Regions from separate parts of the Homo sapiens genome. Here region 2 is reported to be linked to region 1. Evidence: microRNA targets listed by miRTarBase, many of them from high-throughput screens and not tested one by one. Region 1 holds a microRNA gene; the other region holds the end of a gene's coding sequence.
What was found. The annotated mature microRNA hsa-miR-5582-3p reads UAAAACUUUAAGUGUGCCUAGG and lies in region 1 at 1,799-1,820, shown strand. An mRNA with a match to its seed (bases 2 to 7 or 8) in the 3' UTR can be bound and repressed. Matches are read on the target gene's strand: a 7mer-m8 pairs with bases 2 to 8, a 7mer-A1 pairs with bases 2 to 7 and ends in A, and an 8mer does both.

Region 1 (5,075 bases):
TTGGAGAAGGACGAGATCATCAAGTTGTATAGCTGTATCATTGGCAACATGATTTCGGTAAGGGCACCTCTGCAGAATTTCAGCTTCCCATCAATCTCTCAGCCTACAGAGGTTCAAAAGCCAGAGTCCATGCAGATGTTGCAGTGAGTCCTGTGTCACTTGGTAGAATTTTACATGCATTGTATATAGCAAGCTACTGATGGCTTCCATTGGATGTTTGGCTACACTCCATCCCACCTTACTGTTAGGATATAAAGTAACATGCTTACAGACTACCTAGCTTCTTCCGGCCAGTTTCTTCATCAGGCATGGTAGGCCATAGCTGCCTTTCCACAGATAAGTATGGTTCTATTAAAAATGCTAATTAGCCTGGTTTGATCAGTATACATTGTATACATGTGTTGAAATACCACTCTGTATTCCATAAATTTGTACAATTATTACATGTCAACTAAAAATAAAAGGGAAAAAATTTGTTAATGTTTTACCTGTAGAGCAGATTATAAGGATAATAAAGACATTCTCACTCAGATTTCAATATTCTTTCTTAAACTGGGGCTAAAAGGGTGGACTTAATGACACCAACTAGCCAGAAATTACAAATTTGGCATAACAGTAAATAATTTCACATGTAAAAACAAATACTTTGGCCAGGCACAGTGGCTCACACCTATAATCTCAGCACGTTGGGAGGCCAAGGCGGGTGGATCACAATGTCAGGAGTTCAAGATCAGCCTGGCCAAGATGGTGAAACCCCATCTCTACTAAAAATACAAAAAATTAGCCAGGCCTGGTGGCGGGCGCCTGTAATCCCAGCTACTCGGGAGGCTGAGGCAGAGAATTGCTTGAACCCAGGAGGCGGAGCTTTCAGTGAGCCGAGATCGTGCCACTGCACTCCAGTCTGGGCAACAGAGCAAGACTCTGTCTCAAAAAAAAAACAAAAAATTTCACAATTAGAAGCACACCGATTAATTTTGCCTATTACTAGAGGCTTGGGGGAGTGTGGTGATTTTGTTTTTTCTTTAATACTCTGAATTTTTACAAATATAACATAGCCGGGCGCGGTGGCTCACGCCTGTAATCCCAGCACTTCAGGAGGCCAAGGCAGGTGGATCACGAAGTCAGGAGATCGAGACCATCCTGGCTAACACGGTGAAACCCCATCTCTACTAAAAAAAAAAAATACAAAAATTAGCCCAGCGTGGTGGTGGGTGCCTGTAGTCCCAGCTACTCGGGAGACTGAGGCAGGAGAATGGCATGAACCGGGGAGGCAGAGCTTGCAGTAAGCCAAGATCACGCCACTGGCACTCCAGCCTGGGCGACAGAGGAGACTCCGTCTCAAAAAAAAAATACAACATAATTGAATATTTATCAGAATATGCCACCCACATTTCTTTACTCTCTATATTGAGTTTTACACCTCCCTGACACAAGTATGTCTGGATAGCTGTTTCAGATAGAGAGCCTTGCCCGGGAGGCCTCCACTGGAGTACTAAAAGACCTAATGCATGGCCTCATCACCTTAATGCTGGATTCTCGGATTGAAGATCTTGAGGAAGGACAACAGGTCATCCGCTCTGTGAACCTCTTGGTGGTGAAGGTTCTGGAGAAGTCAGACCAGACCAACATCCTGAGGTATATCTGTACTCTCAGCCAATAGAGCCTGGGGCATCCTCGCTTTTGTTTACACTTAGAAACCATAATGTCCGTAAGTCAACTTCCTAGGCAACCTAACAATCATAATCAACTTCCTAGGCACACTTAAAGTTATAGCTACATCAGTTATAACTATATCAGTTAAAACTTTAAGTGTGCCTAGGAAGTTGATTTATTACTCTTCTTCATCATGGACCAAAGGTATTTTAGCCTGAGACCATAGCTAAAACTAGTAAATACTTAGTTAGCCAGCCAATATCATGCATTTTCTATAATAGGACTGTAAAGTTTGTCAGTTACATTTTTCTTGTACATTTCAGGTACATTTTATTCTTTCTCAGCTACCAATGACAATGAAAAATAGAGTCACAAACCTTACACTTACCAAGTGGTGACTTAAAAGGCTTAAACAATGTTTATTTTCTTAACTGAATGTCAGGTAGTCCAGGACAATTCCTGATCCATGACCTCTCAGTTTATTAGATGAATAGAGTAATCTCACTTGCCCTTTCAACTGCTGATTCTAATTGGAATGCAGGTTTGAAACTTAATGCTGTTGTGTTGGGTTTTTCTTCCAGTGCCCTACTTGTTTTGCTCCAAGACAGCCTGCTAGCAACAGCCAGTTCTCCCAAATTCTCAGAGCTTGTTATGAAGGTGAAGTTGAAATGATTTGATCTCTTTTCTTTCAAAGATGCAATCACTTTGTTAAAAGTATGGGGAAAGAGGAATTGGAGCTAAGAAAGACATAGGCTCAAATCAACCAAGTCACACCTGAAAATATATTTTTCGTAATAAAAATATTAATAAATTTTTAAAAATTTAGCCAGGTGCAGTGGCATGCACCTATAGTAGCAGCTACTCAGGAGGCTGAGTTGAGGAGATTACTTGAACCCAGAAGTGAGCTTGATCATACCACTACACTCCAGCCTTGGCAACAGTGAGACCCCATCTCTTAAAAAATATATATATGGTTTTTTATATATATGTGTATTATATATATGTATATATGTATTATATATGTATATCTTAATATGTTATATATGTATATAATACACGTGTGTGTGTGTGTGTGTGTGTGTGTGTGTGTGTGTGTGTATATATATATATATATATATATATATATATATGAATTGGTCTTCAGTTTTTCCCTTCCTACAATTTATATTCTAAGTTCAGGCCTAAACAGTTCGTGGCCTCAAACAGTGAAAGGGAGGAAATATTTTGTAAATATTTTACTAATTCTCTGAGGATCAAAAGGAAAGAAGTTTGAAACAGATTTCATTTATTTTGGGGAAAAAGATATCTACAGCCCTATGATATTTGGTCTCTTTTGTGAAAGAGACCAAATGAACATATTTATAACATTGTAATACTGTTATTACACTGAATTAGTATCAGATATTTTGTCCCCTTGCATTAGATTTGGTTAAGCAACATGAACTACTTTACTCTCAGGAACGAAGGAAACCCAAGAGAGAATTTCTACCAGGTTAAATGATGGCCCCTAGCTCTGGGGAGTGGGAAGGAGTAGAGATGGATGATTAGATGAATGACTGGACACACTTCAGCTGGTGTCATGGTAGAAGTGATTAAAAATTTTCATGTTTTAGCAGCTGAACTTGAAAGATATGATGTGCCACATTTATAGCCCTGGCCATCTTTTAGAAGTGAGCTCAAAGCTTAGGGAAGATGAATGGTGACAAATTATCCTCATTCTTCAGTCACTCCTAACTCTTTTATTCTTTTTTCAATAGTGTCTCTGGAGAATGGTTCGACTGTTGCCTGATACCATCAATAGCATTAACCTAGACAGAATTCTTCTGGATATCCACATTTTCATGAAGGTCTTCCCCAAAGAGAAACTGAAGCAATGCAAAAGTGAATTTCCCATAAGGACCCTAAAGACCCTGCTACACACCTTATGCAAATTAAAAGGGCCCAAGGTGAGTAAGAATCGCAACTGGTCTCTGAGGGAGCTTGAGAGAAAATCATGGAAATGGCAGTGCTATCAGTCATGCATGTGTCTCCCTCAGATCCTGGACCACCTAACGATGATCGACAACAAAAACGAGTCTGAGCTGGAGGCCCATCTCTGCCGGATGATGAAGCACAGTATGGACCAGACTGGGAGCAAGTCTGATAAGGAAACAGAAAAGGGAGCATCTCGAATAGTGAGTGGCCTGACTTGAAAGATTGAGGGACATGAGGCTACACCGGAAGTGATCTTATCTAAGGTGTAGGTCACCAGGATATGCTTTCCGAAGGTCCAAGGTGAAGGCTCATGGACTGGTTGAATCAGTCTCCTGCTGTGGTGCAGTAACCATTTCCACCTTGAAATTTTAAAATCTAAACTAAGTATAACCATGTGTTTTTTGGTCCCCAAGAAAGATGCCTAAGGCATTGGTCACCAGATAAATAGCTAGTTCTGCTTAACATGGAAAGAATATGTCAGTTCCTTCTCCATCAAGTTGAGGTGGAAATCTGAGACTGGAGGCATTCAGTAACACAGAATGTTAGTGCTTCTGCTGCAAGACCTGCATCATCGGTGCATCTGTTATCTGTAGGAACATACCAATAAGGCCCAGATTTTGAGATATTTTCTGTTCATATCCAACCATCAGTTCCTAATTAATAACTCAAGTCTAACCAATTCTTCCTATGTCTTTCAACTTTTCAGGATGAAAAATCATCAAAGGCCAAAGTGAATGATTTCTTAGCTGAGATTTTTAAGAAGATTGGCTCTAAAGAAAACACTAAAGAGGTGAGAGTGAAAGGGTTAAGCAGAATAGGGGTCTGCTTTATGGTAAAGGGACACTAACATTCATCCCCACCTCTTCCCTTTTCCTGTTCACCAGGGACTAGCAGAGTTATATGAATATAAGAAGAAATACTCAGATGCTGACATTGAACCATTTCTGAAAAATTCCTCACAGTTCTTCCAGAGCTATGTCGAAAGAGGCCTTCGGGTGATTGAGATGGAGAGGGAGGGCAAAGGTCGTATTTCCACTTCAACAGGTATGGTTTCCTGTTATAGCTCCAGGAATAAGCTCAAAATAGCTCCTAGCACAGGAACCTGAAGTTTTGGTTAGTTTAAATTCATATCCATGAACCTCAATACTTAATGGTCACCAAATGGCCTTCCCATTGCTATATCCAGTGGTCAATTCTTAGCCACCTGAATTGACCCATCATCAGTATTTGACAATGGTAAATAAATTGTTCCCTGCCCTTGAGACAGCTTCTTCACTTCGCTTCCAGTTCTCCATGCTGTCTTGTTTTCCTCCAGTCTCACTGGCTATTCCTTCTTGGCCTTTGACTGATTCTTGCTCACTTGCTCTGACCTCTTTTTTTTTTTTTTTTTGAGATGGAGTTTCACTCTTGTTGCTCGGGCTGGAGTGCAGTGGTGCAATCTCGGGTTC
Region 2 (5,075 bases), not on the chromosome of region 1:
ACCGGCAAGTGATCAGCTGTGACAAGAGCATATGCACATTGCAGATCACCGACACGACGGGGAGCCACCAGTTCCCGGCCATGCAGCGGCTGTCCATCTCCAAAGGGCACGCCTTCATCCTGGTGTACTCCATTACCAGCCGACAGTCCTTGGAGGAGCTCAAGCCCATCTACGAACAAATCTGCGAGATCAAAGGGGACGTGGAGAGCATCCCCATCATGCTGGTGGGGAACAAGTGTGATGAGAGCCCCAGCCGCGAGGTGCAGAGCAGCGAGGCGGAGGCCTTGGCCCGCACATGGAAGTGTGCCTTCATGGAGACCTCAGCCAAGCTCAACCATAACGTGAAGGAGCTTTTCCAGGAGCTGCTCAACCTGGAGAAGCGCAGGACCGTGAGTCTCCAGATCGACGGGAAAAAGAGCAAGCAGCAGAAAAGGAAAGAGAAGCTCAAAGGCAAGTGCGTGATCATGTGAAGGCCCTTCCTGCGGGAGGAGCAGCTGTGTGTCCCCGGCACCTCACTCCCCCAAAATGACACCCACCGTCGTCAGGGTAGCATGTATAATGCCCACGTGTTAAACATTGCATTTAATCGAGATGCGTCCTATTGTCCTTAAGAGGGCGTTTCACACCACCAACAGTAAGCCACCCACTCTGGAGTCACAGAATCTGCCAGGCGGTTCAAGTGAAAACCAACACACTCAGCATCCCTGGGAACTGAGAGGTGCCAGCAATTGCTGAAGGTGGCGATGAACACCCGAAGGTGGGAGGGAGGACTGGTACCCACAAAGCAACATGTACCGAGAGGACTAAATGTCATCTACGTGCATGTGAGAGCGTGTTAACCTAGAGTTACCTGCACCAACCCCAGACAGAAGCCAATCACATCTTTGGGGGAGGGGAGGGGCAGGAAGAGGTGAGAAGATCAGATGGTCCAAAGTGGACCACACTTGGTCCATTTTACACTTTTTTAAAGGGGATTAAAAAACACAGCCTCTCCCCCAAAGGGTGTCCGTTCTTAATTCCCACCTGGCCTGTTAGGAGCCTTGCTACCCTGAGGGGATGTGTTCACCTTACCTAGACCTAGTTAGGAAGTATCATTTTAAGCTATTAGAGTATTTATCTTCATGTGCAGGGATAAGTGCACTAACAGTGTGCTGCTCTGTCGGAAGTTCTTCAGTTTTTAAGTGAGGATATCGTGACAGTATTAAAACATCGCAATAATGTTCCTGTGTGTTATACATCGAGGGTTTTAGAAATGTGATTTTCTTCTTTTGACCTGTGAGGAGTATAACTTCTTTCAGCCCTCAGATTTTAAATACAAGCAAATAAACTCACTATTTTTAGACGTTTTTTTCCTCCAAGGTGGTTTTCTTCTCTTAAATAACTCGATCTGTACCCAGCTGGGTAGCAGCCAGCAAAGGCCATCAGACAACCAGAAGCACATCCATTTTTGTAGTGTCACAAACATGTATATGCCACACTTTGCACCTTAATGAAATACTTTGAAACAGAAGTTATTCACTGTGTTTTTGATGATCTATCTGTATTGGAAATATGTTCCTGGAAAATGCATTTAAATAATAGTAAATTCTCTTGCATGTTCCATTATACGTGTCTTCTAAGAGCTGTTCAATACAGTATTCACTCTAGAAACAATTATCTTTTTCTCTTAATGATTTTGTGTGCATCTTTAATCTTTCAAGCCAAATTACAGCTATTTCAGGTTTCCTGTGTTAGCTTGGGGATAGGATGGTGGCTGGAGACAGGCAGGCTTCTCTGCCCTGGGAAGAGCCCACTCAGCTTAATTGCTCTGCCATCGTAGAGCCTGGTTGGACTTGGCTTCCTGAAAACTCCCACTGATAGTGCCTGTTAGATCTCCTGTTTGTTTCAGTTGGCAGAACATTTACTGGCCCCAACTGTGGCATCATCCTCTCAGCAGTCTTCCTGTCACCCGCCTGGCAGGCAGAAGGAGCTGCAGTCCCACGTGGGCCTGCCTGGGGGGGTGGGGGCTGCATGGCTGTTGGGTGGCAGTGTCAGCACAGGGAGGGCTTAAGTTGGGGATGTTTGACCAGGCCACCTCCTGCAACTGCTGTTTCTCCTGTCCCTCCTATGCAGGGCTTGCAGCAGCAGCAGTGTGGCCATCTCCATCCCCCAAAGCACACTTGCTCTCTCAATATGTCCTAGTTTTCTTCAGCCTTTTCTGGTTCAGTTCCCTTGTCCTGATCTCATCCTCTCTGGTCTCCCAATAACTCACCCTTGGGATGTGTTTAGAGCGTGGGAGGTGCCTTTGAGAACTGCTTGACTCCATGATCTCCTAGAACAAAACCGCCCTGACTTTACAGGGGGAACACTCATGCTGAGCTGAGAAAGCAGAGAAGTGGCGTGGGAGCCAGCTGGGGGTGAAGAGCATTTGGGCCAGTCCCGTGGCCCCCTTCAGATTCCTCAAGCAGGATTGTTCTGTTCTAAAAAGCTGTTGCACAGCATTCGCAATGAGATCTTTAGTTGGCGGATTTTCTGGAACATTTGTTTTTCAACTTGTCCCGACATTTTTTTTCTGTTTCTATTCTGAGAGAGAGATGATCAAGTTTTAATTTGGGTATAGGTTAAATGGAAGAAGAAACAGAACTTCATGGCCAAAGTAGACCTATAGATTTTGATTGGGTTCTTTGTTAACAGTAGAATGCGATCTTTGCCACTGACTGTAGTATTAATAAGGTTTTAATGTGAGATATTCCTGCAAACCATCCCATTTCTACTGATTGTAAGTCAGAATTTCTTTTATCCCTTTCAAATCAGTTTCTACATGTTTAAGTGTTCAGGGCTTCATCAGCATGAGAAGTTTGTAATTACTGAAAGTCTGATTTCATTCAGGACACATTTTTTCCTTCATATTTTTTCTGTGAATTTATAGGCTAGGAAGGCTATTGAAGCCTCAATTATGGGTCTTCATTTTGAGATCGTTTTCTATGAGCTGAACTGAGGATATCAATGGTTATCTCAAAATCGTCTTTTAGGAGATCCCCAATTGACTCAGAGTTTGAGGAGTTAGTATCACAGAATTAGATTTTTTTAAAGCATTTGTACGTTTCCATTCCCAAATATGTAGCTGTGGTTCTTGAAAACACATCCTACATTGCATATGGGCATAGCAGTTTTTGACCCAGGCAGAATAAGTTAATATTTAATTAAATATTGCTTTGAAGATGGCGCTCTGGGCATGAGCATGGGGCTCCATGACTTCCCTTCTATCCCCATGAGCCCCTCCTCCATCCAGCGACAAGCCATGGGCATGCATACAATGCAGCAAGACCAACACAAGAGCAATATTGAATTGTTCATTCTATCTAAAATTACATGTATATAAAATATATAATTTATCTTCCTGCATTTTTGAAGTATAAAGTCATAAATTGTACATATCTGTAAGCTAGTATATTTGTTTCACTGTTTGTAATATTTAAGAAATGCTCATTCTTTGTAGAACAAAAATGTATTAAATATTTTAAAAATTGCTCTGTGATACTTAATTTTTTTCCCCAAAATTTGTAATGTGTTGCTTCTACATAAGTTCTCTGGAAATATCTACAACTAATAGGACACATGTAAATCCTTGAAGACACATCCTGGAATTCATACCCCACAAGGACAGTGTGTATACAAAGTATTTGCAGAGCATGACTTTTATATGTGTGGGATATCAATGTGTATATTTATATTTAAAGTGTATTTATTGTTACAAGTCTATTCTCTATTATATTTTATTTACTCTGCGGTTATAAAAATCACCCTTGCATACAAGTTTCTAGTTGCCAGTGATGTTCTGGAAATAATGGGAGATATTACAATAAAGCTACAGTTATGACACCCTGGCTGGAAGGTGGTGCTATTTCTTAAGGGGTTAGCTGGTCTAGGATGACCTTGACTTGGTGACCCCTCAGCGGCTGTTATGTGCTTATGACCACAATAGGAGGATATCAGGCTCTGTGCAGAACTAGCAATAGGCAACAATAACTCACCCTGGGGTGTCCCGTGAAACTTTCCCATTGCTCCCTGTCTTTGGGTGGAAATGAAGCAGAAGATCCAGACAGGTTAAGGTGAGAGAGGGAAGGAGTAGGGCAGGGCCTTACTTGTGTCAAAATAGAAGAAGTGAAGACAAACTCCCTTCTCTTTTTTTTTAATCCTGCTTTCCTCCACAACCCCAGGCTATTAAATTGTAAACCAAATATAAAATTCTAAGCCCCCCAACTGACTGATGGATGCTTCCCTTGGCCAAGGGCATTCCAAAGTTAACTCAAAAACTAGTTCAGGCCATGATGGGAAGTGGGGATCAGACATGCCTCATTATATCCTACTCCTCTTGGAATTCAGGCACAACTGACCAGCATTAACATTAAAACATCTGAAGAATGATAGACTGTTTGGGTCTGGTAGGAGGAATTTCCTTCTATTGATTCTTTCTGCATAATAGGAACCTTGGTTTCCATAAGCCCTTATCTTAATCCAGACATTCCCTTCTACTGATTCCAGTCTTTAGATAATAATCTAACTCTTTCAACCAATTGCCAATTAGAAAATTCTTGAATCTACCTATGACCTGGAAGCCCCCACTTTGAGTTATCCCACCTTTCTGGACCAAACCAGTGTACATCTTACATGTATTGATTGATGTCTTATGTCTTGCTAAAATGTATAAAATGAAGCTGTAGCCAGATCACCTTGGGCACATGTTCTCAGGATCTCCTGGGGTTGTGTCTAGGATCATCAGTCACTCATATTAGGCTCAGAATAAATGTCTTCAAAAATTTTATAGAGTGATTCTTTTCATTGACAAAATGATGGTGTTTTAAGTCTGGGACAAGCCAATGCCTGAGACATGGAGTTGCAGCAGAGCAAGAGGTTTAATTGTAGGGTCACCCAGTGAGGAGATAGATAGGAGGAAACCTCAAATCCATCTCCCAGAGGGCTGTGGGGCTAGTGATTTTAAGGGTTTTGGAGTGGGCCACAGCATGAAGTGTGGAAATCATTGATTGGTCAAAGAGTTTGGGGTGAAGTCGTGGGATGAGGATGAAGAAGCTGCA

Region 2: miRTarBase lists DIRAS2 as a target of hsa-miR-5582-3p. Seed matches in the 3' UTR shown: 8mer at 2,580-2,587.

Annotation. Positions count from the first base shown.
Region 1 is chr11:46,749,870-46,754,944 of GRCh38, reverse strand. It overlaps MIR5582 (microRNA 5582), which reads left to right and starts at 1,753; the gene lies at 1,753-1,820. It overlaps CKAP5 (cytoskeleton associated protein 5), which reads left to right. Exons shown (of 44, transcript NM_001008938.4): 36 at 1-57; 37 at 1,448-1,635; 38 at 2,235-2,310; 39 at 3,411-3,599; 40 at 3,690-3,827; 41 at 4,334-4,417; 42 at 4,512-4,671.
Region 2 is chr9:90,608,623-90,613,697 of GRCh38, reverse strand. DIRAS2 (DIRAS family GTPase 2) reads left to right here. Exons shown (of 2, transcript NM_017594.5): 2 at 1-3,866. The coding sequence ends at 470. Among named protein-coding and RNA genes, the nearest start is that of LINC01501, 28 kb to the right of the region's middle. RefSeq lists enhancers at 1-221, 222-722.